Homo sapiens: one gene and its partners. The protein of the gene in region 1 interacts with the protein of each later gene in a biochemical or structural test. Each region holds a gene or a part of one and is shown in the gene's direction. Other genes may lie near its edges.

The links.
Region 2: the proteins of RND1 (region 1) and UBXN11 form a complex in vitro, tested with the Homo sapiens proteins (one study listed by BioGRID).
Region 3: the proteins of RND1 (region 1) and PLXNB2 form a complex in vitro, tested with the Homo sapiens proteins (one study listed by IntAct).

The regions. Positions count from the first base shown.
Region 1 is NC_000012.12:48,856,562-48,863,429, reverse strand, and holds the end of RND1 (rho-related GTP-binding protein Rho6 precursor), read left to right. Parts: intron 1-1,311; coding exon 1,312-1,421; intron 1,422-2,298; coding exon 2,299-2,433; intron 2,434-5,188; coding exon 5,189-5,434; 3' UTR 5,435-6,285; downstream 6,286-6,868. UniProt on the Homo sapiens protein: Lacks intrinsic GTPase activity. Has a low affinity for GDP, and constitutively binds GTP. Controls rearrangements of the actin cytoskeleton. Induces the Rac-dependent neuritic process formation in part by disruption of the cortical actin filaments.
Region 2 is NC_000001.11:26,289,226-26,296,867, reverse strand, and holds part of UBXN11 (UBX domain-containing protein 11), read left to right. Parts: intron 1-2,536; coding exon 2,537-2,663; intron 2,664-7,642. UniProt on the Homo sapiens protein: May be involved in the reorganization of actin cytoskeleton mediated by RND1, RND2 and RND3. Promotes RHOA activation mediated by GNA12 and GNA13.
Region 3 is NC_000022.11:50,297,236-50,304,877, reverse strand, and holds part of PLXNB2 (plexin-B2 isoform 3 precursor), read left to right. Parts: intron 1-1,056; exon of another isoform or gene 1,057-1,399; intron 1,400-3,208; exon of another isoform or gene 3,209-3,415; coding exon of another isoform or gene 3,416-3,531; intron 3,532-4,366; exon of another isoform or gene 4,367-4,380; intron 4,381-4,542; exon of another isoform or gene 4,543-4,752; intron 4,753-7,642.

The DNA.
Region 1 (6,868 bases):
CACCTCCTCCCTCCTTTGACAGTCAGAATGCAGCCCTCAAATCCCAAACCAGATCATGGAAAATCAGCAAGTGTAGTCTCTGTTCCCTGTGTCACACCCCCACCCCCAATTTCCGAAAGGATAAAGGCTGTCAGTTATTCTCAAACTCCCTCTTTCAGATTAGGTTCCCATAAGGAAGGAGGAAGTGGCCATGGTGTGTGGGATAGGGTTTCCCAATGTTGGGCTCAGGGTTGACCCTGTTCCCATTATTTACTTGCTAGTCTTAGGGGAGGGGGATTGCTTGGAGCCAAAATGGAGGCCTCCTCCCCTCCCCCTTCCCCAGTGCTGCAGTGCTTCCGCTCCTCAGTGCTGCAGTGGTAAGACCCCACCTCAGAAAGGGATGGAGGAGGCTTGCTGAAGGAGCAGGCAGCTATCCCAACTCCCCTGTATTCCTTTTTTTAATGACCAACATCCCCCCACCAGCTTGGATTCCCCCCAGTTTCCATGGCGATTGTGGTGCAGGGAGAGGGGCTGCTTGCTATTCTGAGCACGGATTGTCTGGGTTCCAAATCCGCTACTGCTCCTTCCCCAGGGTGGAGGGGGCAGGCTCAGCTCCTAGCATTCTCCCATATGGGACCACCTGGGTCTGCATTGCCTATTTCCCTTCCAACGAAGGACTCTTGCTCTAGCCTCTAAATCCCCAGCCATCGGTGCTGCTGTCTTTGAGACTGCCTTCCTGAGATGTGGGGCGGTCAGGAGGTACAGCTTTCCTTTTGCCCTTTTCAGTGTAAGCCGATCTGGGTGGGTGGAGAAGTGGGGCACTGAACCCTTGATTCTCTCCCTCCCCTGCTAGCCTCCTAAAGTTCTGACCCCATGGAAAAGCAGCAGGCAGGTTATGTAACAAGGAGGTTTTTCTCTTCACTGGGGAGACCCTGGAGCAGAAGGGAGTGAAGTTGGGCAGCAGGCAGGCTCTAGAAGAGAGAAGCCCTGAAATAAGTGCTGTCTCTCTGCAGGGCTGGAAGCATCTTCTGGGACTCAGAAAACTAGTAGATCTCCAATTAAGCCTGCTGTAGGAGACCCAAACAGGGCCAAATTATACTCCACCCACTTTATTTTGTCTTCTTTCCCTTTTTCTGGACTAAGGGGGATGATATTCTTTCATGACCTTCTGGCAGACAGTCAGGTCCCAAGCTTCCAGCCGCAGTACATTCCCCCTGGGAGATGGGTGGATCCTCAGGGATTGAGGATGGTATTCCCAGGGCTTTAGGGCTTAGGCCTATTGGGGAAGGAAAACACCATGGCTCACCATCAGCTCTTTCTGGCCTACACCAGGATCTCCCTACTACGATAATGTCCGTCCACTCTGCTACAGCGACTCGGATGCAGTATTACTATGTTTTGACATCAGCCGTCCAGAGACAGTGGACAGCGCACTCAAGAAGGTAAGACTAGATCAACTCTCTAATCTCTAACTCAGCATGAGGACCAAGAAGGAATCGGGACCTTGTCATGAATGCCCTCTTGTATAACATCAAGAAATGGAAGCCAGGGAAGGAAGAGATTTGCCCAAGGCCACACCATTAGCTACAGCTCTGGGACTGGAACTTGGGTCTCCTTACCCCACTGCCTCCCGCCCTTTTTGTTATCCCATGCTGCCTTGCCAGAGGCCCCGCAAGGGAGGGTGGTATTGAAGACTCAGGAAGCAGAGGACGGAGAGTCAGAGAACCTTTAGGTGATACGGTATGAGGGTCAGGCATGGGACCTTTTGGAGGCAGCTTCTATAGACCCTGATCCCAGTCCCACTGAGAATGGGCAAGCCAGGCAGGTCTGAGCTGAGCTGCTGGTATGAAATGCTTAGGTCTGGGCAGATCCACCAATGCTGAGGAGTCCTAGGAAACCTTGTGTATCTAGCATAGTATAGAAGATGCTGGGATCATGTTCTTCCCTTGAGAAGAGACTGGTTGGCTTCCCCCTGGCATTCTGGACTTGTGAGGCCCTTTGGGGTGAGGGGGCAGATCCATGCCTATATGGTTGGCAGAGAGTGGGAGGAGAATTGCCCTTGTGCCCTCTCTGGTGACTGAGCCATAGACTGGGGGAACAGGCTCCTGGGTCAGCACTCTGGGGGCCCCAAAGGCCTCATGGGCAGGAAAATGATGTAATTAGTGCAACGGTGATGCTGTGACTCAGAGGGAGGACTGGGCTGGTGATGAGTGAGGTGATGTGTGTGACGTTGCCAGCCAAGCTTCTCCTGGTATCTGTCTGCCACTAACTCTCCTTCCTTCCTCCTTCTCCTACCCTTCTTCCTGCTCCACCCCTCAGTGGAGGACAGAAATCCTAGATTATTGTCCCAGCACCCGCGTTTTGCTCATTGGCTGCAAGACAGACCTGCGAACAGACCTGAGTACTCTGATGGAGCTGTCCCACCAGAAGCAGGCGCCCATCTCCTATGAGCAGGTGTGTGCGCATGCAAGTGCATGTCGTGGGGTGGAGTGAGGAAGGCTAGAGGCAGACAGCTTGAAATATGGCCCTGGCTCAAATTCTTCCACTATGGCAAGAGAGAATTGCTGTTATAATTAGCAAATGAGTCACCTGGAGAGAGGTGGTGGGCACCTGCTTACCCAGATGTATGCTGTCAGTTAGCAGGTGAGTTATTCCTGTGTGTGCCCACATTTCTAAGATTGTATTCTGACCACCTGCGTTAGAATCATTAGAGGTGTTTGTTAGAATTTCACACACACAAAAAAAAGAGGCCAGGTGCAAGGTGGCTCATGCCTGTAATTCCAGAACTTTGGGAGGCTGAGGCAGGAGGATAGCTTGAGCCCAGGAGTTTGAGATAAGCCTGGGCAACAAAGCAAGACTGTCTCTACCAAAAAAAAAAAAAAAAAAAAAAAAATAGCTGGGTGTGGTGGTGAGTGCCTGTAGTCACAGCTACTCAGGATGCTGAGGTGGGAGGACCGCTGCTTGAGCCCAGGAGGTTGAGGCTGCAAGGAGCTGTGATCATGCCACTGCACTCCAGCCTGAGTGACAGAGTGAGACCCTGTCTCAAAAAAAAAGAAAAGGAGGAGGGGCACTGGGTGCGGTGGCTCACGCCTGTAATCCCAGCACTTGAGAGGCCAAGGCCGATGGATCACTTGAGCTCAGGAATTCAGGACTAGCCTGGCCAACATGGCAAAACGCTGTCTCTACTAAAAATACCAAAAGTAGCTGGGTGTGGTGGCATGCACCCGTAATCCCAGCTACTCAGGAGGCTGAGGCAGGAGAATCGCTTGAACCTGGGAGATGGAGGTTGCAGTTAGCTGAGATTGTGCCACTGCACTCCCACCTGGGCGACAGAGTGAGAGACTCTGTCTCAAGGAAAAAAAAAAAAAAAAAAGGCCAGGTGTGGTGGCTCATGCCTGTAATCCCAGCACTTTGGGAGACGGAGGCAGGTGGATCACTTCAGGTCAGGAGTTCAAGACCAGCCTGGCCAACGTGGTGAAACCCCGTCTCTACAAAAAATACAAAAAATTAGCCAGGTATGGTGGTGCACACCTGTAATCCCTGGGCAACAGAGTGAGACTCTATTTCAAGAAAAAAAAGTGTGATCTGCCTAGGTTGGAGTGCAGTGGCACAATAGTTGTTTATGCAGCCTTGACCTCCCGGACTCAAGTGATCCTCCCTCCTGTCTCCCTAGTAGCTGGGACTATAGGTATGGGCCCCACGCCTAGCTAATCTTTTAACATTTTTTGTAGAGACAAGGTCTCAGTATGTTTCCGGGGTTGTTCTTGAACTCCTGACATCAAGTGATTCTCCTACCTTGGCCTCCCAAAGTGCTGGGATTACAGTTGTGAGTCACCACACCTGGCCTGGAATCTGCATTTTTTATAAGACCCCTGGATAATTTCTTATGTGCATGAGAGCATAGGGTTGGGGGACTGAGTTTCGCTCTTGTCACCCAGGCTGGAGTGCAGTGGTGCGATCTCAGCTCACTGCAACCTCTGCCTCCCGGGTTCAAGAGATTCTCCTGCCTCAGCCTCCTGCGTAGCTGGGATTACAGGTGCCTGCCAACACGCCCAGCTAATTTTTGTTATTTTTAGTAGAGATGGGGTTTCACCATGTTGGCCAGGCTGGTCTTGAACTCCTGACCTCAGGTGATCCACCTGCCTTGGCCTCCACTGCACCTGACCTGGGGAGCTCTTAAGAATACTAATACCGGCCAGGCGCGGTGGCTCACGCCTGTAATCCCAGCACTTTGGGAGGCTGAGGCGGGCAGATCACAAGGTCAGGAGATCAAGACCATCCTGGCTAACATGGTGAAACACCATCTCTACTAAAAATACAAAAAATTAGCCAGGCGTGTTGGCGGGTGCCTGTAGTCCCAGCTACTCGGGAGGCTGAGGCAGGAGAATGGTGTGAACCCGGGAGGCAGAGCTTGCAGTGAGCCGAGATCGCGCCACTGCACTCCAGCCTGGGCAACAGAGCGAGACTGTTTCAAAAAAAAAAAAAAAAGAAAAGAAAGAAAAAGAAGAATACTAATGCCTTGGCTCTATACCCAGAATTTTTTTTTCCTTTTCCTTTTTTTTTTTTTTTTTTTTCCAGAGACAGGGTCTTACTCTGTCACCCAGAATGAAGTGCAGTGGTGTGATCCTAGCTCACTACAGTGCAGAACTCCTGGGCTCAAGGGATCCTCTCTAGTATTTGAGACTATAGTTGTGTGCCCACTTCCAGTGAATTTTTAAACATTTTTTAAAAGTGTTTATTATTATTTTATTATCTTTATTTTTGAGATTTATTTTTGTAATTCCAAAGCGCTGGGATTATGGGTGTAAGCCACCGCGCCCGGCCACCTAGGCTGGTCTTGAACTCCTGGCCTCCTCAAGTGATCCTCCCATCACAGCCTCCTGAGTAGCTGGGATTAGAGGCACTAGCCACTGCCCCAGCTATCCCCAGAAATTCTAATTTAGTTTGGCATCAATATAGTTTTAAGAGTATTCCAGATGATTTATAATGTGCAGTCAGGCATCGTCTTAAGAAAAAGAGGCATCATCAGACAGGGTGTATGCCAAAAAAAAAAAAAAAAAAGAAAAGATAATCGAATAATCTGCAGAGGGTGGTGTTTGGAGACTGGCAGCTGGGTCCCCTCTGGAGTGGCCCTGGGGAGTGACGCACAGAGGCAGCGTCCCAGAGCCATTTTGGCCCACTGCATTAATGCCCTCACCCCCTCCTGCAGGGTTGTGCAATAGCAAAGCAGCTGGGTGCAGAAATCTACCTGGAAGGCTCAGCTTTCACCTCAGAAAAGAGCATCCACAGCATCTTTCGGACGGCATCCATGCTGTGTCTGAACAAGCCTAGCCCACTGCCCCAGAAGAGCCCTGTCCGAAGCCTCTCCAAACGACTGCTCCACCTCCCCAGTCGCTCTGAACTCATCTCTTCTACCTTCAAGAAGGAAAAGGCCAAAAGCTGTTCCATTATGTGAAGTGGAAATTGGAGGGGGGAGACAACCCCCTACTTCCTCCCTTGGGGTGCAGAGGCACGGGGAGAGGGAGGATGAGACAATTTAGGACACTGGACATGAGTTTTTCAGATGGCCACGGTGAGGGCTTGGAAGGAGACAGGAATGGGGCGAGGAAGGAGCCAGGCCCGGCATGAGGACCTGACGCTGAGAGAGAACCATCATACCCCAAGCCAGGCACTAGATTTTGGAGGGGGCGACTACCCCAGTGCCCCCCCCGCTCCAGAGGAAGGAAAGCTGTGGGGGACGGGGGGCATGCTGGCCTCATGGGCTTGGGGGCCTACAGCAGCCTCACCTTCAGCTTCATGCCTCTTCCACACAGCGTTTCCATGCAGGTCAGGGGATGGGAGGGGTCCCTGAGCCCTTCCCTTCCCCTCTAAGGAGGCAGCAACGGAGAGTGGGGAAGTGGAGCGGCAGCTCCCTTGGGGGCTTAGCCCAGGTGCTTCGTAACTGCAATCGGAAGTGCAGGAGCTGGTCAGAGCCAATGAGAAGGAAACCTCATCTTTGCATAGCCCATGCCTCATGGAGAGGTGACATCATACATTCACATGCTTCTCACCTAAGTCCCCAGGGTCCAAGGGAGAAGCCCCAGACCCCCTTCTCTTGCAGAGTGTGGGGGTGGTGGTGCTGCAGGGGCAGGGCTGGGTGGGGGTCACCAGACTTTTTCTGCCCTTAGGGTAGTACAGCTGGCATTTGTTTTATAGACTCTTGTCTTTGGAATTGGGGGGAGGGGGGGAGTGTTTCAATCTGTTATATGTTCTGTGTTTAATGAAGAAAACCTATTTATTAATGAAAAATATAATACATATAAAGAATTTGGCTCCGTATTTTTTTCTGTTTTCTTTAGTTGTTACAATTGGTATTTTTTTTTTTTGGTCTTTTTTTTTTTTCCTTTTTGTGGAGAACAGGGTCTCGCTATATTGCTCAGGCAGGTCTCAAACTCCTGGGCTCAAGCTATCCTCACATCTCTGCCTCCCTAAGAGCTGGGATTACAGGCATGAGCCACCGTGCTTGAGCCCTTTGGTTGATGATAATGAGAGAAAAGCTGTCCTGGGACCCTTTCTGTGGGTTGCAGAGGGGCTGCCTCCACCATTCCCCAGCTCCTCCAAGAAGGAGCTTCTCTCTTCCCCCATCCCCCTGCCCTAGCCCCACCCAAGACCTACTAAACCAAGGAAGGGCTCCTTAGCCCGAGAGCAGGGGTGCAGGGGTTCTCAACCCTGGAACTATTGACATTTTGGACTGGATAATGCTTTGTTGTGAGGGACTGTCCTATGCAGCCCAAGATGTTTAGCAGTGTCCCTGATCTGGTGGATGCTAGAAGACAGCACCCCACTCTCCAGCTATCACACCCAAAAATGTCTCCAGACGTTGCTAAATGGCCCCTGTGGAAAAATTCTG
Region 2 (7,642 bases), on another chromosome or scaffold:
TCACGGCATGTTCCTCAGGAGCTGGGTCCGAGCCCACCTCTCTGGGCCTCTCCTCGTCACATCCCACCCAGGGACCCTGCCCTGCATTTCCCTACCCAGGACTGGCCCAGACTTTAAAGAGCCAGGGAGGTGTCTGGGGCTGGGGCACACCCCTGCTTTTGGGCCCTCTGAACATGCCTCTCCCCTGCTTAGCAGACCTCATGGCTCCCACTGAACTGAATTCTACAGTCCTCGCTGTGGCCCCTGCGGGCTGGCCCCTGCATGCCTCTTCATCTTAGCTTGAACCACTCTCCCCTCCAGCCATGAGGCCCTTCCTCTGGGTCTTTGACCTCATGGAGCTGCTTCCCACCTCAGGGCCTTGGGCCGTGCTGTTGCTGTTCCCTCTGCTGAAATGTTTCCCCACCTCCCCCAGGTCAGTTCCACTGTCCTCAGTCATATCCCCCGGGCCTCCTAGGCAGGTTTTCCATCCCGAGCTTTCTCAGTGCCTCATCTCTCTTCCCTTGTGGGACTCTGAACTCCACGACGGAGGGAGCAGTTTCCTCCTGTATGTCACTGTGCACCCAGGACCTAGCACTGAATTGGTTAAGCAATTTGCTGCCTCTGGCTGTGACTTCTGCTCACTGGGGACTCAGTGACCCCAGTCACCTTTCTTTCCCCCGCTCACAGACCCATTCAAACAGCAAGGGAACTAGAGGGACACCAGGCACAGAGAAGGGTCCCAGGCACGCATGGGCCCTGCCAGAAGTTCTTCCTGGGATTCAGCCTCTCTCCCTCTCCACGCAGAATTGGTTTCCAAAGTCCCAATCTAATTTAAAACCTTGGCAGCAAACCTCCAATTGCAGCTGAGAGCCCTTCCCACTCCAAGCTGTTCATACCTGGGGTTGTCCCCGAGCAGTGGCCACAGGCGGTGAGGGCTGCACCAGAGCCTCGGGGCAGGGGCATGACTGCCCTTGCATGCGTCTCCGCCACACAGTTATCACTTCATTCATTTAACAGCCTCATCTGGAGGATCTGCTTGGGGCAGGCCTGGGGCAGAGCATGACCAAGACAGACATAGTCCCCCGCCTGCATGAGGCTGCCAGTCTGTGGGGAGGGGAACAAACGAGTACACAGGTACACAAGTACAGAGAGTGCTGTGACTTGATGAAATGGGTGACACCACAGAGGCAAGTTGGGGGACCACCTGCGGGGGTGACATTGGGCATGATGTCTGGTGAGTGAGGAGGGGAATGGGGTGAGAGGATCCAGGCCTTAGACAGGGAAGGTGCCACTTCCCGCCACATAACTTGGCTTGCGGTCGGTGGCTGTGTGGAGGAAGGAGAAGAACGGGAAAAGAGAAGAGGTCGTGGGGGCCTTATCACATTGGAGCCGCCCGTGGTTCTGGCTGGATCCTGTCCCGAAAAAATGGGAAGCCATTGGAAGGCTTCTGTTTGAGAGGTGGCATGACAAAAAGACCACCCTGCTTTGTGGGGTTGGGTGGTGTGGGTGAGGAGAGGACGGGGGAAGCAGGCGCCGCCCCTGGATTGTCCAGGAGAAAGATGACGGTGGCTTGAACTAGGGTGGTGGCAGCAGATGGAGCCCAGTGGATGGGTTCCAGGCTGCATTGGAGGGGGCACCACAGGCCTTGTGGGTCATCCTGGAGGAATGGGCGACAGAGGATTCTCAGGTGGAGGGGGTGCCATTTCTGGAGACAGGAAAACCTGGCACGGGGGAGGTTTGACAGGGGGACAAGAGCCACAGCCATTAGACATCCAAGTGTGGACGGTTGGAAATGTGAGTCTGGAGCTCGGGTGAAATCTGCATAAATACAAACTTGGGTTCTGTCGTATATATTTGGGAGAGCGTGTGGATGGAGCTGGGCCCCCATGAGTTGGTGTTGGATAGGAAGGGGAAACGGTGAAGGAAATTGGAAAGGAACAGCCCAGGAGATGGGAGGAAAACTAGCAGATGGTGAAAGATAGACAGAAATGTGCCCATGCGCTTGGCAGCGGGTAGGTTGGTGGTTGCAGCACCTTGAGCAGTTTCAGAGAGGTATGGCGATGGAGCCAGGTTAGAGTGGCTTGAGAAAAGAAGTCGGGGTGTGGACATGTAGACAGTCCAGAAGTTTCCTGTGGCAGAGGGGACATGCGGCCAAGCCCTAGGGAGGCTGGCACATGGTTCACATCCCTCAGCCCTGCCTCCTTCTCACACTTGGGCCAGGCCACGTGATTTCTGCAGCCAAGGAGGCTGACCTTACCGAGCCCTCGCATGGGCTGGGCGCTGACCTGAGTGATCTTACTGAGCCCTCCTCACAAGCTTATGTGGCAGGAACTGTCACTCCATTTTATTAGAGGAGTCGTCTGAGGCTCTAGGGACTGAGGTGGCTTTCCAAGGTCACAGCCAGGAAATGGCAAGATCCCCCTACTCATCCCTTTGTCTGGTCAGCTCTGGGGGCCCCATTGCCTGCAGACTGAGGCTGGGCTTTGGGCTGACACTGCCTTTCCCTGGGAAGGGGCTGAGCTGACGGTGCCCCGCATCTCCCCCTTCTTTCCCACAGCGGTTCCTCAGTGACTATGGCCTGCAGTGGGTGGGCGAGCCCATGGACCAGGAGGACTCAGAGAGCAAGACAGTCTCAGAGCATGGCGAGAGGGACTGGATGACAGCCAAGAAGTTCTGGAAGCCAGGTAGAGCAGGGCGTCTGCCCCAGGCCCTCTTCAAAAGGAATTCTCCAACAGTTTGCTGTTGGCCGGCAGCTCCCCAGAGGCCTATCTCATTCGTGCCCGGGTCCCTGACCCAAGACGCCCTGAGAGCCCACAACTTGCCCCTGAGACAATGTGGGAGCAGCCTTGGCCTCCATCACTGACCACTTAACCTGCTGGCCCACTTCTCCACGGTCCTACCTCTGCTCTCTCTTGCTCATCTGTCAGAGACCCAGAGATACAAGAGGTAGCAAGGCCTTATTTGCCTCAGGTCACATAGTCTACAAAACGCCACCAATCTGGAAGATGTTGCCGTTTTAAAAAAAGGCAATCCTTCTGTTCTAGAAGCTGCTGCCAAATTCCCAGGTTTGGCCTCCCTCTCCAGGTTTGCTTATGGCCCTTGGAATCCACCTGGTTCTGTGGGCCCCTACCATGTCTTTTTTTTTTTTTTTTTTTTTTTTTTTTGAGACGGAGTCTTGCTCTGTCACCCAGGCTGGAGTGCAGTGGCACGATTTGGCTCATTGCAACCTCTGCCTCCCAGGTTCAAGCAATTCTCCTGCCTCAGCCTCCTGAGTAGCTAGGATTACAAGTGTGTGCCAACACACCCAGCTAATTTTTGTATTTTTAGTAAAGACGGGGTTTTACCATGTTGGCCAGGCTGGTCTTGAACTCCTGACCTCGTGATCTGCCCACCTTGGCCTCCCAAAGTGCTGGGATTACAGGTGTGAGCCACCACGCCTGGCCTACCATGTCTTATTTTTAACTTCTAATATCTAGAGGGATTCCTCCCACAGTCCCCTCCTATAGACCCACAGATTTGGGTCCATAAAACTGGCCATTTCTGAAAACCAGGCCCATTCTCTTCAAAGAATGGAGATTGTCACCCAAAAGATGCTTCTCCAGGCTCTAGAGTCAGGCACACCTGGGCCCTCAACTCGACTCTACCTCCTATCCCAAGTGTGACTTGGGCAGATGACCTCTATTCACTTCATCAACAAAACAGGAGTGTTCTTCCCTGGGAGTTACAAGGAGCAAATGAGTTAAACGCAGAGCGCCTAGCTCTGGCCTTGCAGCCATTGTTGTTTCCAAAGTCTGAGGGCAGGGGTCCCACGGGAATAGGAGCACAGCTTCCAAGGGGCCCATTTGGAAGATGACGACACCTTCTTGGTTTCCTGCTAGGTAAAAACCCAGATTCCAAACATGAGAATCCTGCCTCCTGTTTAGGCCTGGGCTCTGGCTGGATCCCCCCAGATCTCAGGGTCTAACGCCCTCACTGCTTGTTCTCAAAACATCACTTCCCATTTTTGTGCCATTTGCAGCTTTCTTTTTTTTTTTGAGATGGAGTCTTGCTCTTGTTGCCCAGGCTAGAGTGCAATGGCACAATCTCGGCTCACTGCAACCTCTGCCTCCTGGGTTCAAGCGATTCTCCTGCCTCAGCCTCCTGAGTAGCTGGGATTACAGGCGCCCACCACCATGCCCGGCTGATTTTTGTATTTTTAGTAGAGACAGCGTTTCGCCATGTTGGTCAGGCTGGTCTCAAACTCCTAACCTCGTGATCTTCCCGCCTCGGCATCCCAAAGTGCTGGGATTACAGGTGTGAGCCACCGCGCCCAGCCATTTGCAGCTTTCAAAGCATTTTCTTTTTTCTTTTCTTTATTTTTCTTTTTATTTTTTGAGGCAGGGTCTCACTTTTGCCTGGGCTGAGTGCAGTGGCACAGTCATGGCTCACTGCAGCCTCAACCTCCTGGGCTGAAGTGATCCTCCCACCTCAGCTGTCTGAGTAGCTGGGACTGCAGGCACGTGCCACCACACCCAGCTGATTTTCTTTATTTTTTGTAGAGACGAGGTCTCGCTACGTTGCCAAGGCTGGTCTTGAACTCCTGGATGCCAGTGATCCTGCTGCCTCAGCCTCCCAAAGTGCTGGGATTACAGTTGTGAGCCACTGTGCCCTGCCAGCATCTTCATAGCCTTGACAGGGGCCAGGAGTTACTCCATTTCACAGATGGGTAAAGGGAGGCACTTAAGGAGTCTGTGGACTCATTATTGAGGGAAGAGGGGCAAGACTTAAGGCTGACAGCCCACTGTAAGGCAGTTGGTCACTGAGGCAGAAGATGAGATGATGCCCAGCTTGAGGGTGGGGATGGTGAGAAGGGATGGGCAGAGAGATTTAAGTAGAATCCGTGGCCTTGGTGTCTTTACATGAGGGAGAGGACCAGAGGAGTCAGGGATAACCCGAGGGAGCACAGCTGCGGGAAAGATGCTGAGTACACTTGGGACACAGCAAAGCTGGGGGCTGTGCAGTCCCTATGATGCTAGGAAGGGGAGCGTGTCCCTGCTGCCCAGGGCACTGTAGGCCCAGGCATGCCAACTCCAAAGCTCTAACTGAACCCAGGGTGGGTGTCGTGGGGAGAGTTCTCAAGGGACCCCTGGCATGAGTGAGAGGTGAGGCCCTATTGGGTGGCTGCAGGTGCTCTGAGAATGTCTATCCTGGATCTAGGCCAGAGGCCCACAAGTGCCGCACCCTGGGCCCTGCTGTGGCGGGCTGGGCTCAGGCTTCAGGTAGGCCTGCCATCTTGTTGCAGGGCAGCCTTCCTCCTGGCCAGGGGGGACCTCCTTGCTCCTTGCCAGGTGGCTGGTTTCTGGACCTGGCTCTGTGGATTCCTACTCTGCCCTGTTTGGTTGTTTGTGCTCTGAGTGCCTCAAGTCAAAGTAACTTGTGAAAAACCCTGCCCTCCATCTTGGAGGCCCTGGCCATATCTGTGGTCCCTCCGTGCGTTCTCTTCCTTCTTTTGTTCTTTGATTTTTTCAGCATGGGCGGGGGGCCTTGATTCGGCTCTTTCTGCCAGATGAATGACGTTTTTCGTCGCTAGCAGCTTCTGTTCCTGGGACATCTCTCCGGCGTCCCCGTTCCTCTCTCCCCAGGTGCCACCCTGCTCCGCCCAGGGGCCTCAGGCTCACAGCCTGGCCCCCGCTGGCCTGCCTGACACTCGGCTGATTGCTCTGCTCTCCCTCTGTTGGAGAGGCTCCCACAGGCGCTGGGGTGGAGGCCTGTGGAGGGTGAGCCAGGGCCGTCTGTGCCGAGCCAGTGGGGTGATCAAACTTCCTGGAGCCTGGGACTCCTAGGGAGGAGGGCCGGTGGGGCCATGAAGGGGCTTGGCCTCAGGCTGGATCGCTCACTCTCCCCCTCTCTCTGCCAGCGTCACAGAGCATGCTGTGCCAGGTGCTTCAGGGTCTGTGGAGACATGAAAGGGACAGTCCTGCTCTGGTCACACGCCACTGGGGCCAGGTGTTGGGCCTCGGGGCTGAGAGCTCTGGTCAGCTCTGAAGTTCTCCCTTCCCCCCCACCCTCTGCATCTCTGAGCTCCTCACTCCTCACTACTTCCCTGTTCCCCTGAGAATCCTCACCCTCTCATCCCCCTCTGAAATCCCCACTTCCCCTACCCAAGTCAGTCCCTGCCTCCCTCCATGGCTCCACCTCTCCCTGCCAGCACCCCACACGCCTCCCTCCTTCCTCTCAAGCCCCACACTCCTGAGTCTGGGTTGGAGGCCCCCTGACTCCGCAGCCTGCGTGACTTGCCCCTGGGCTTGCCCTTCAATCCCAGAGCCACCTGGCTTGACCCCTCCCCACCTGCACTTCTGCCTCCAGCCTTTGCTCCTGCTCTGTCCCCACAGAGCGCCTTGCCCGCTTCCCTCCCCTCTGAAGCTCAGGGCAAATCCAACCTCCGCCAGCAAACTCTGACTGCCCTGTGTGGGCTGTGCTGCTCTGTGGGGAGGGCTCTGCTTGAGGGAAGGGGCTAAAAGCTCTGGCTGAGGCAGGGTTCAGGTCGGGTCAGACCCCAGATCAGCAGATCGCTGACCCCCTCTGAGTTCATTTCCTCCTCAGTCGTGCTGACGGGCTCCTAGGGCCACTGAATGGATGTGGTAATAAACTGTGACAGCCACTGTCACCTAGCTGTTGTCATGCATGTCCCAGTGCTTGGCACATGGGCAAGGGTGTGTGTAGCTGCATGTGATTGGCTGTGATGCCCGTGTGCCCAGGCTTGGATGATCAGAGCACATTGGAACAGTCATCTGCACATGATGAGGTGGGGACAGGGTGGTGCGTAGCTCAATGGCAGGGGCCAGAGAGAGCTGCAGGTGGGACCCGGCAGGCCTGAGTTCAGATCCTGCCAGTCCACAGGCTGGTTGAGTGTTCTGGCGGGGACCAGACCTGCAGGGCCTCCTTTCCTGCACTGGCTCCTCTGAAGAGCAGAGTGACTGCAGTAAAGTCCCCAGAGCGGGGCCTGGCTTGCAGGTGTGTGGTAATAGTGGTTCCACTTCCTGTTGCAGCCGTCTTTGCCTGAGGGTCAAGGGCAGGCACATGGAGGGCGGCACCGCGTGAGCTGCCGGGGTGCCCTGGGCACTTGTGCAGTGAGGGGCTGCCACCTCTCCACTGAGCATGGTAGGGTCTGGCCCTCTTCTGGGCTCCACAGCCCCCACAGTGATACTTACACATGCCATTGTCGCCATTTGCCGCCCCGTCTTCTTCACTTGAGTCTGAGCCTGAGGATGGCAGGACCCTGGGCGTGGGCATCGCCATGATGGGCAGGGCCTAGCAGAGCACGGGTGCTCAGACATTTCTGGAAAGCAGGATCCAACCCTGCTTTTAGTGGCCCAGCCACTCTGGGCCAGGCCCAGGGCTCAATGCTCCTGAGCTCAAGGGGTGCCCAGCATGGCTGGAAGGCAAACAAGCAAGCAGAAAGCAGCGGCCTGTGACGAGGGCCAAGGGAGTAGGTGCAAGGGCTCCAGGCATGCAGCCTCAAGGCAGGTTGGGGGTGGCTCCTAGCAAGGCTTCTTGGAGGAGGTAGGGGTGAGTGGGCACAGCTTGAGCCCAGCGATGAGTAGGCGGTGCTAGGGACAACAACAGCCACCATCTGCCAAACGCTTCCTCCAAGCCTCACAGCAGCCCTGTGAAGTGTGGAAAC
Region 3 (7,642 bases), on another chromosome or scaffold:
CCCAGTGGCCAGCAAGTGGCCCCCCAGCCTTGACCTCCCTTCTCTGAGGCAGATCCAGGTTCTCTGGGGGTGGGAGATTCAGTAGGGCTGGGACTGGCCACAGCCCCTCCCTCCCTCAGGGGTAGTGGCTGTTTGTGTTTGGGGTGGGGCTGTGGGTGGGGTGGGGCTGGGTCTCTGACTAATTACACGATGGGGAGGGTGGGTCAGAGCCTTGGCTGGTGGGGGGTGCTCAGGCTCTGGGGCCCCGGGGAGGCAGCTGCCCTAGCTTCCCTCTTTCTGGTCGAGGTTCCTCCACCTTCTTCCTTTCCGTGGTTTCACATCCCTTGACACAGGGCCTGCTTCTTCCCATACCCCTGGATTGTAAGGACCCCTGCCTTTCTCTGCCTACCAGGGAAGGACCCTGCACTGTTCTGGGCTCCCCCAGCCACAGGTGTGGCCTCAAGCCAGGCCCTGACACAGTGGCCCTCCTGGCTCAGAAGCCTTCTCTCTGAAGACCAAGCGTGTGAAGGGATTGGCTGGGCCCCTCCCGTCTGGCCCTGAACACTGGCACCCCGCACCCCCCCAGTGGATCCACCCTGCCCTGTGAGATTCATGAACCTGTGACAGTGACTGGCCCCAGGCCCAGTGGTGCCGGGGATGGTGGGACAGGCTGCCCCTGGTGGTACTGCAGGTTTGCCCCACCCCCGGGGATGTCTGTCTGGGGAGGAGCCTGGGGCTGGCCTGGCTGTGGAGCTGGGGGTTCTGTTTCGCACAGTCCCGCCTCTGCAGCCCAGATCCTGGAGCCCTTCACACCCAGAGGCCAGCCCACACCGTGGCCCGCTATGGTTGGTGGCCTTCCCTGGGGGTAGCCCCTAAGGCCACACCTGAGCTGCCTCATGTCCCAGGCTAGGTGAGGGAGGAGACTGCCCTGGGCTGGGATCAGGGCGCCTGGGGGCAGGTCCAGCTCTCTTCCTCAGCCCCCTAAGGTCTCCTGGCTTCTGAAAGCCAATAGTTCCTCATTCCAGTGCCAGCTGAGTCCCGGCCCAGGCCTGGGGCAGGAGAGGGAGGTGCTGCCCCAGTTCAGCCACCAGCTCTGCCAGCAGGGTCCCAGCAGCAGCAGCATCAGAGGCAGGGACTGGGCTCCTGGGGGTAGGGCCCCGGCCCCTCTGGCACAGCTGGTCAGCAGCTTCCATGGGGGGCCCTGTGTGGAGACACAGTGTCCAGCACCGATTTCTGGGCCTGATGCTGCCCCAGCTGAGTCCCGCAGCAAGCGCAAGAGAGAGAAGTGCTTGGTGTCCACCTCTGAGAAGGCCTCCTGTGTGAACACGGCCCCCTGAGGGGCCAGGCAAGGGCGTCTGCTCCTGTGGCTGGGACGGTTCCTGCCCACGAGCCTTGTGTAGGGCTGCGGCTCTCTTCCCAGGTGACCTTCTGTTGTGGTCTGGGGCCCCCGAGCCAGCATGCCACCTGCTCAGAGACAGATTGGGCCCCCTGTCAGATTGGCGTCTGGGGGCACTGTCTGCTCCTTCCAGGCAGCTTTGAGGACTTCTCAGAGGAGGAACCCCCCTGCCCTGCTGGTCCAAAGTGGGGTGCTGAAGGCCGAGGCAGTTTCCAGGGGGCTATGCCTCAGGCTGCGTGGGTGGCTGTGGTAGGAGCGTGCTCTGTGATTGTCACTGCATTTGCCTGGGGTCCATGCTCTGTCCTCAGCTGGGGTCTGGCTTTGAACCTAGGTGAGTTCTGGGGCTCTGAGGACAGGCCAGAAGCAGGAGTGTGGGGGGGTCTCTCCTGGGGGAAGCAAGGGAGGCCTGGGCCTGTGTGACTCAGACGTGGTAGGGTGGCATGGGAGCCACAGCTTGGGGGGATGGCGGGGGGCTTGAGGGTAATCCAAGTATTTCAGGGACCCAGCCATGGAGAGTGGGGTTTGAGGACCAGCAGGAGGTGAGGACTCTGTGGATCCCAGCCCTGTCAGGTGTGTTTTCAGAGCTGGGGCCTGCTTTGGAGGAGATGGAGGGCACAGAACACTGCTGAGCCCAGGCCCTGTGCCCAGCCTTGCTCCAGCCTTACCGGCTTGACACCAGGGCCTCCCTCCCACCAGCGAGGGGGAGAAGCTATTTTAAGTGGAGCCAGCAGTTGACAGGGGCAAGGGGCAGGTGGTGGGAGGGAGGTGCTCCAGCATGGCCCCCCCCACTCCCTCTCAGCCTCAGAGATTGGCCAGGGGAGCTGAGGGGCTTGGCCTCCCCACTCCTATGTTGGCACCGAGCCTGATCTGGTGACCACCCTGAGGGACTTCAGGAGAAAAGGATGTTAGGGAGGAGGGCGTGAAGGTGGGGCGCCCCAGGCAGGCCGCCCAGGCCCAGCAAAGCTCGCTGGAGGGTCCCCCAGTTCCACATCTAGACCTGGGGCCCAGTGGCTCTCGACCAGGCCCTGTGGGGTTTGAAGTCCTCAGCTCCACCATGAGCAGAGCAAGCCTCCGCGTGGAGCAAGGGGCTGGACCTGGCCTCCAGGGGCACCCACCTCCCCACACAGCTCCAGCCACGGGCATCACCTCCCACTCACTGTCCTGCCCCCACTCTGAGATGGGCATTTCCTCACTGGGAAATCCCTGTCCCTCTGGCCTCCCAAAGCCCTGAGTGTTTGCCCCTGTGGGGCCCAGCCCACACCCTGGGCTGCCTCACCCTTGGCCTGGACCCAGGTCCTGCCCAACACCCTGTGCCTCACCAGCCCCCAGCTCATCCTGGGCAGACGCAGCCCCTCTCCCCTGCTGAGACGGCCCTGCCCCCACCCCACTTCCCCATGCCACACATGGCCCCTCCCTCGGGGCTCCAGGCAGCGCTGGGTTCTGAGAGCCCCACTGCCCCTCTTAGCCCAAGTGCCCCGGCCTGAGGCTTCTCTCCCAGGCTCTTTGTACTGGGGACGAGTTCTGGGTGTTGGGGTGAGACCCTGTTGGCAGGGCTTTTCCGGCAGCACCCAGCCATGTGTGTCTGCACATGTGTGGTCATGTGTGCAAGTGGTGTCTGGCACACAGGCTTGGCGCGGTGCCCCAAGCTAATTGTGGGGTTCAGCGGTGATGGGCGAGGCGGGGCTGGGGTGACCGCTGAGGCGCTGACAGGCTGACGGGGAGATTACAGGCCTTGCTTACTGCTCACTGGCTGGGGCCTCACCCGTCCACCCCCCAACGCCCACCCCGGGGGTGAGAAGGGGGCTGTGGGCGGGGGCTGGTCTTGAGCCAGCTGCATCCAGGCAGGACCTGGTCTCTGAGCAGCCGGCTGCTGCGGGGTTGAGCTGGAAAGGGGGAGATGCGTGGGGGCCACTCAGAGGAGAGCCTGCAGGTGGGGCTGGGCACCGGCGGGCCGGGAGGCCTCCTTTCAGGAGAGACTCCAAGTGACTGAGCCCCAGAATCCCACGAGAGTCCCTCCGTGGCCGCCTGCTGTCTGACCGCATGTCCTGTCCTGATGAGTTGGTGGTTCCTGCTGTAGCCATCGGCCTCGTGTGCCCCGAGCGCCTGGCGGTGCCCACCCCTCCCACAGGAGGTCCTCAGGAAGCACGGAGACATCGGTAGGTTCATTGCGCTGCCCAGCTTTCTGACCCGAAGGACCACGGTGTAGCAAGAGGGGGCTGCAGCTGTGCCCAGGTTGGACAGGATGGGGTCTGGGACCCCGAAAGGGGTGGTTGAGGAGAGAGGTGGTTCTGCAGGCCTGGTGCGTGTGGGGACAGGGCGCCGTAGCCAACTGGATCCCACCTTCTGTCTGAGGGCTGGGGAGGACCATCCTCCAGATGCGCCAGTGGGCCGTGGCCAGAGAGGAGGCTGAGGAGGGCCTCACAACTGTGTGTAGGATGGGAGGGCAGCCTGGGGCCCCAGTCTAGGGACGCACCATATACAGGGGCTGCACTTGGTGCAGAGGCGGAGAGGGGGCTGGGGCAGGCCCCTTGGGCATGGCCAGGTGAGCTCAGGGGGTGCCTGAGGGCCAGGGCTAGATACAGAGGCCCTGGGTACCAGGTGGCCTGGGTGTGTCAGGAGGTGTGGACCAGTGGGGGCTGTGACTAACTCGGCTGGAGCAAGTGACAGGAGGAGCTGGGGCTTCATGGGGCACCCCCAGGATCCTGGGCTGGTGACCCCATCACTGCCACCAGCCAGGGTGACTTTTCCTGCTGGGACCCAGAGCCCAGACTGCAGGGGAGGCTGGCCCTAAGTAGGAACCCCACCCTGAAACCAGGCTGGCGGGGAAGGGGTGCGACGGCCTCCACCTGGGAGGGGTCCTCAGCCGAGAGTCCAGCGGGGACCGCTGTAGACGCTGAAGCGAGGCTCAGGCCTCCACATCAGTCTGTCCCTGGAGCCCCGCCCCGCCCCGCCCCGCCCCAGCTCCTAGGTCGGGTTGTGCCGGGAGCGTTCGGCCTTTGCCTCGGGTGAGTCTGGCCTTGACCCTGGGTCCGGAGTCCTGCGGGAGGCTGCTCCGGGCAGGGTCGTGCATGATTGGCAGCTGGGCCGGGAGGGGCCGAGCCCTGAGACCGACCGGGGGCACGGGCGGAGCCACCATCGGCGGGGCGGAGCTGCTCCCCGCGCCCCTTCCACGGCTCGGAGGACTTAGGTAATGGCCGGCTGTGCGATCCGATGTGCCCGACGCCAGGTGAGCGCCCCGCGGGGACGACGTCTCCTGCGCTCGTGTGACTGTCGCCGCCGCCGTCATTGTTACTCGGGTCAGACTCCCACCCGCCCGCGCGTCCTGGGCCCCCGGCCTGGTGAGGTTTGTCCCAGAGGCGGCCACGTGCTCCCTCCAGGTGCGCGAGGCCGAGGGGCGGACGGGGCGCCGGAGTCCCCGGGAGGGCGCGGGCGGTGGCCGTGGAGCTTGGGCTCGCGGGGGGCAGTGGGCGGCGCCGAGGAGGCGCGGGCCTAGTCCCTGCGCTTCCTGGCCCCGGGCGCGCTTTGCCCCTGGCTCCCGGGCAACCGTTCTGCGCCCTCCGGGGAGTCTGGCGGTGCCGGCGCCGGGGGAGGGGCTGTGCCACCTGGGTCGGCCTGCGAGGAATAGTCCAGGGCGCTCCACACAGGCCGGGTGCCCGCCTTTGGCTCTGGCCGGGTACCGGGCTCGCAGACCCACCCAGGAGACACCGCCCCCCGCCTCCCGGGCTGAACTCTGACCCGGGTCACCGGTGGGTGGGGCTGGGTGGCGGGGCCGCCGGTCTCGCCCTCGCCGGGTCTCCCGCGCGCTCTCCACCCAGTCCCTCCCCGCGCCTACCCACGGGCGCGGCGCTGCGGGAAGGGGCGGCCGGGGTCCTTGCCGACCCCCCAGCCCCACGCCCCGCGGCACCCCCCTCGCGCTTGTTTTGAAAACAGCGGAGGCTGGGATTCGCCGGCGCGTCTGTTTTGTTTCCTCTGATGTGTTTAGCGCTCTGGGATAATTGCAGATTTGCGTGTGTCGCTAGCTTTGGCCCGGCCCCCTGGCTGCTGGCTGCGGGGCCTCCGGGGCCTCCGTGGCTTTTCTGTGACGCCTGTCGCCCCGTTCCGGGACAGCCACTCTCAGACGCGCCTTGGCCTGTGCTTGGGGCAGCCTATCGCTCACTTGGTCCGAGGCTGCTTCCCCCGCCCCCGCACCGGGCCCCCCCCCCACCCCACGCAGGGCCTGTGTCCACCCCAATCCTTTGAGCCCTGGAGGGCCGCACAGCCCTAGGACCTCTGCCTTCTCCACCGCCCATGTCCTAGGTGCTCATGCCACCCCCTCCTGCCCTCCCAGGCCTAGGCCCGAGCTCTCCTCGTTCTTCATGGCGGCTGCTGCCTGGATCCCCATCTTGGCCCCTGCCGGGCCGCTGCCCATGCACCTCCTCTGGCCCCTGCCCTCTCTGGTTCCCGTGCCAGAGCCCACAGCCTGGCCTGGCCAAGAGCAGCCCCCAAGCTGGGCCTGCCCTCCCACTGGGCCTGACTGCTTTGTGCTGGTTTGATTTTAGCATTAAGAATGGTCAGTCTGGCTGGGTGTGGTGGCTCACGCCTGTAATTCCAGCACTTTGGGAGGCCAAGGCGGGTGGATTGCCTGAGCTCAGGAGTTCGAAACCGGTCTGGGCAACACGGTGAAGCCCCATCTCTACTGAAATACAGAAAATTAGCTGGGCATAGTGGCGTGCACCTGTAGTCCCAGCTACTGGAGAGGCTGAGGCAGGATAATTGCTTCAACCTGGGAGGCAGGGGTTGCAGTGAGCCAAGATCATGCCCCTACACTCCAGCCTGGGTGACAGAGTGAGACCTGTCTCAGAAAAAAGAAAAGAATGGCCCAGTCTGTTTGCTTGAAAATACTGAAAGGCAGAGAACTCCCAATTTTAGTCCCCACTGGAACCACCCCGCAGTGCAGCCAAGACTTGGGGCGGTCTCAGAACCAAGGCTGGCAGGAGTTTGGGGGCCTGGCAGCCCCCACTCTTGGCCTCATCTGGAGTAGGGCTCTGTCCTTCCCCCTTACATGCCTCTTGTTTACCTTTACCCAGTGGGAGGGGCGGGGGCCAGACTCAGCCCGTGCAAGGGGCCTGGGGGCTGCTGGTCAGAAAAAAAAAACAAAAGGGACCTCAGGAGAGGGCCACAGGTGCCCAGCCAGCAAGCAGCTCCTGCTGCCTCCCAGGCTGTCTAGGTTGTAGAGGGGAGGCCCAGCATCCCTGTGCTGCCCTTGGCCTACATCGGAGTTCTGGTTGGGGGAGGAGACCCTTCTGCTCTGTTGGCCTGGGGGTGACCTGCGGGGACAGGTCTTCTGGGCTCGCGCCCCTGCATGTCACCACCCCTTCCCGGCTCACTGAGTTTGGACCGGCAGGTGCCCAGTGACCAGATCCAGTGTTTGGACTTGTTGGGGCAGGGCGGCGGGGCAGCCGGGGCCTGTCGGGGAAGACCATAGACCACAGAGCAAGGCCAGTCCCTCAGGGGCTGGGTTAGGGAGGGTGTCTCGGGGTCTAAAGGATGGGCAGGGGCTTTCCAGGGAGCACAGTGAACATGGACGTGGGAATGTCGTGAGGCAGCGTTCTCTGAGTGGGCACAGCTGTAAAGATTTCCACACCCACTCAACCTCAAGGCAGCCCTCTGAGGTGGGCGCCATAATGACCCCCAGGTTACATATGGGGAAACTGAGGCACAGAGCAGCTTTCTGAATGGCCCACATGAGCCAGCTAGAACGTGACAGAGCTGGGGTGTGAACTCACTGGTCTGGCTCTGGACTTCAGGCCTCGAGGTCCCTGGGTGCAGCAGCGTCAGGTGTGACCACAGCCACCTAAGGAAGAAACTCCTTTTTCTGGGGTAGCTAAGCGGGAATCTTGTGAGCAGGAGATGGAGCCTGGCTCAGTGTTGAGGGCAAGATGGATGGAGGTGGGAGAAGCCAGAGGCCGGGCAGAGGAGGTAGACTTGGGCCAGGAAGGGCCCCAGACTGAGGGTGGAGGGATCATGGTGTTATTCTCTGGGAGGGGAAATCCATGGCCGTTCTCCACGGTGAGGGCCAGGGAAGAGGACGGCAGAAAGCCTCCTCCAGGAGAGTGGAGTATGGGTCTTGCCTCTGGCTTCCTGAGTGGATCGATCACTCAGGGGAGGTTGTTCGAGGGCGTGCGGGATGGGCGGGACAGAAGCCAGCCTCCCCTGACCTTGGCTGCCCCCGCCCACGCCTGGGGCCTGGGCCCGTGGAGGCTGGAGCCTGGGGGTGTGCTGCAGGGA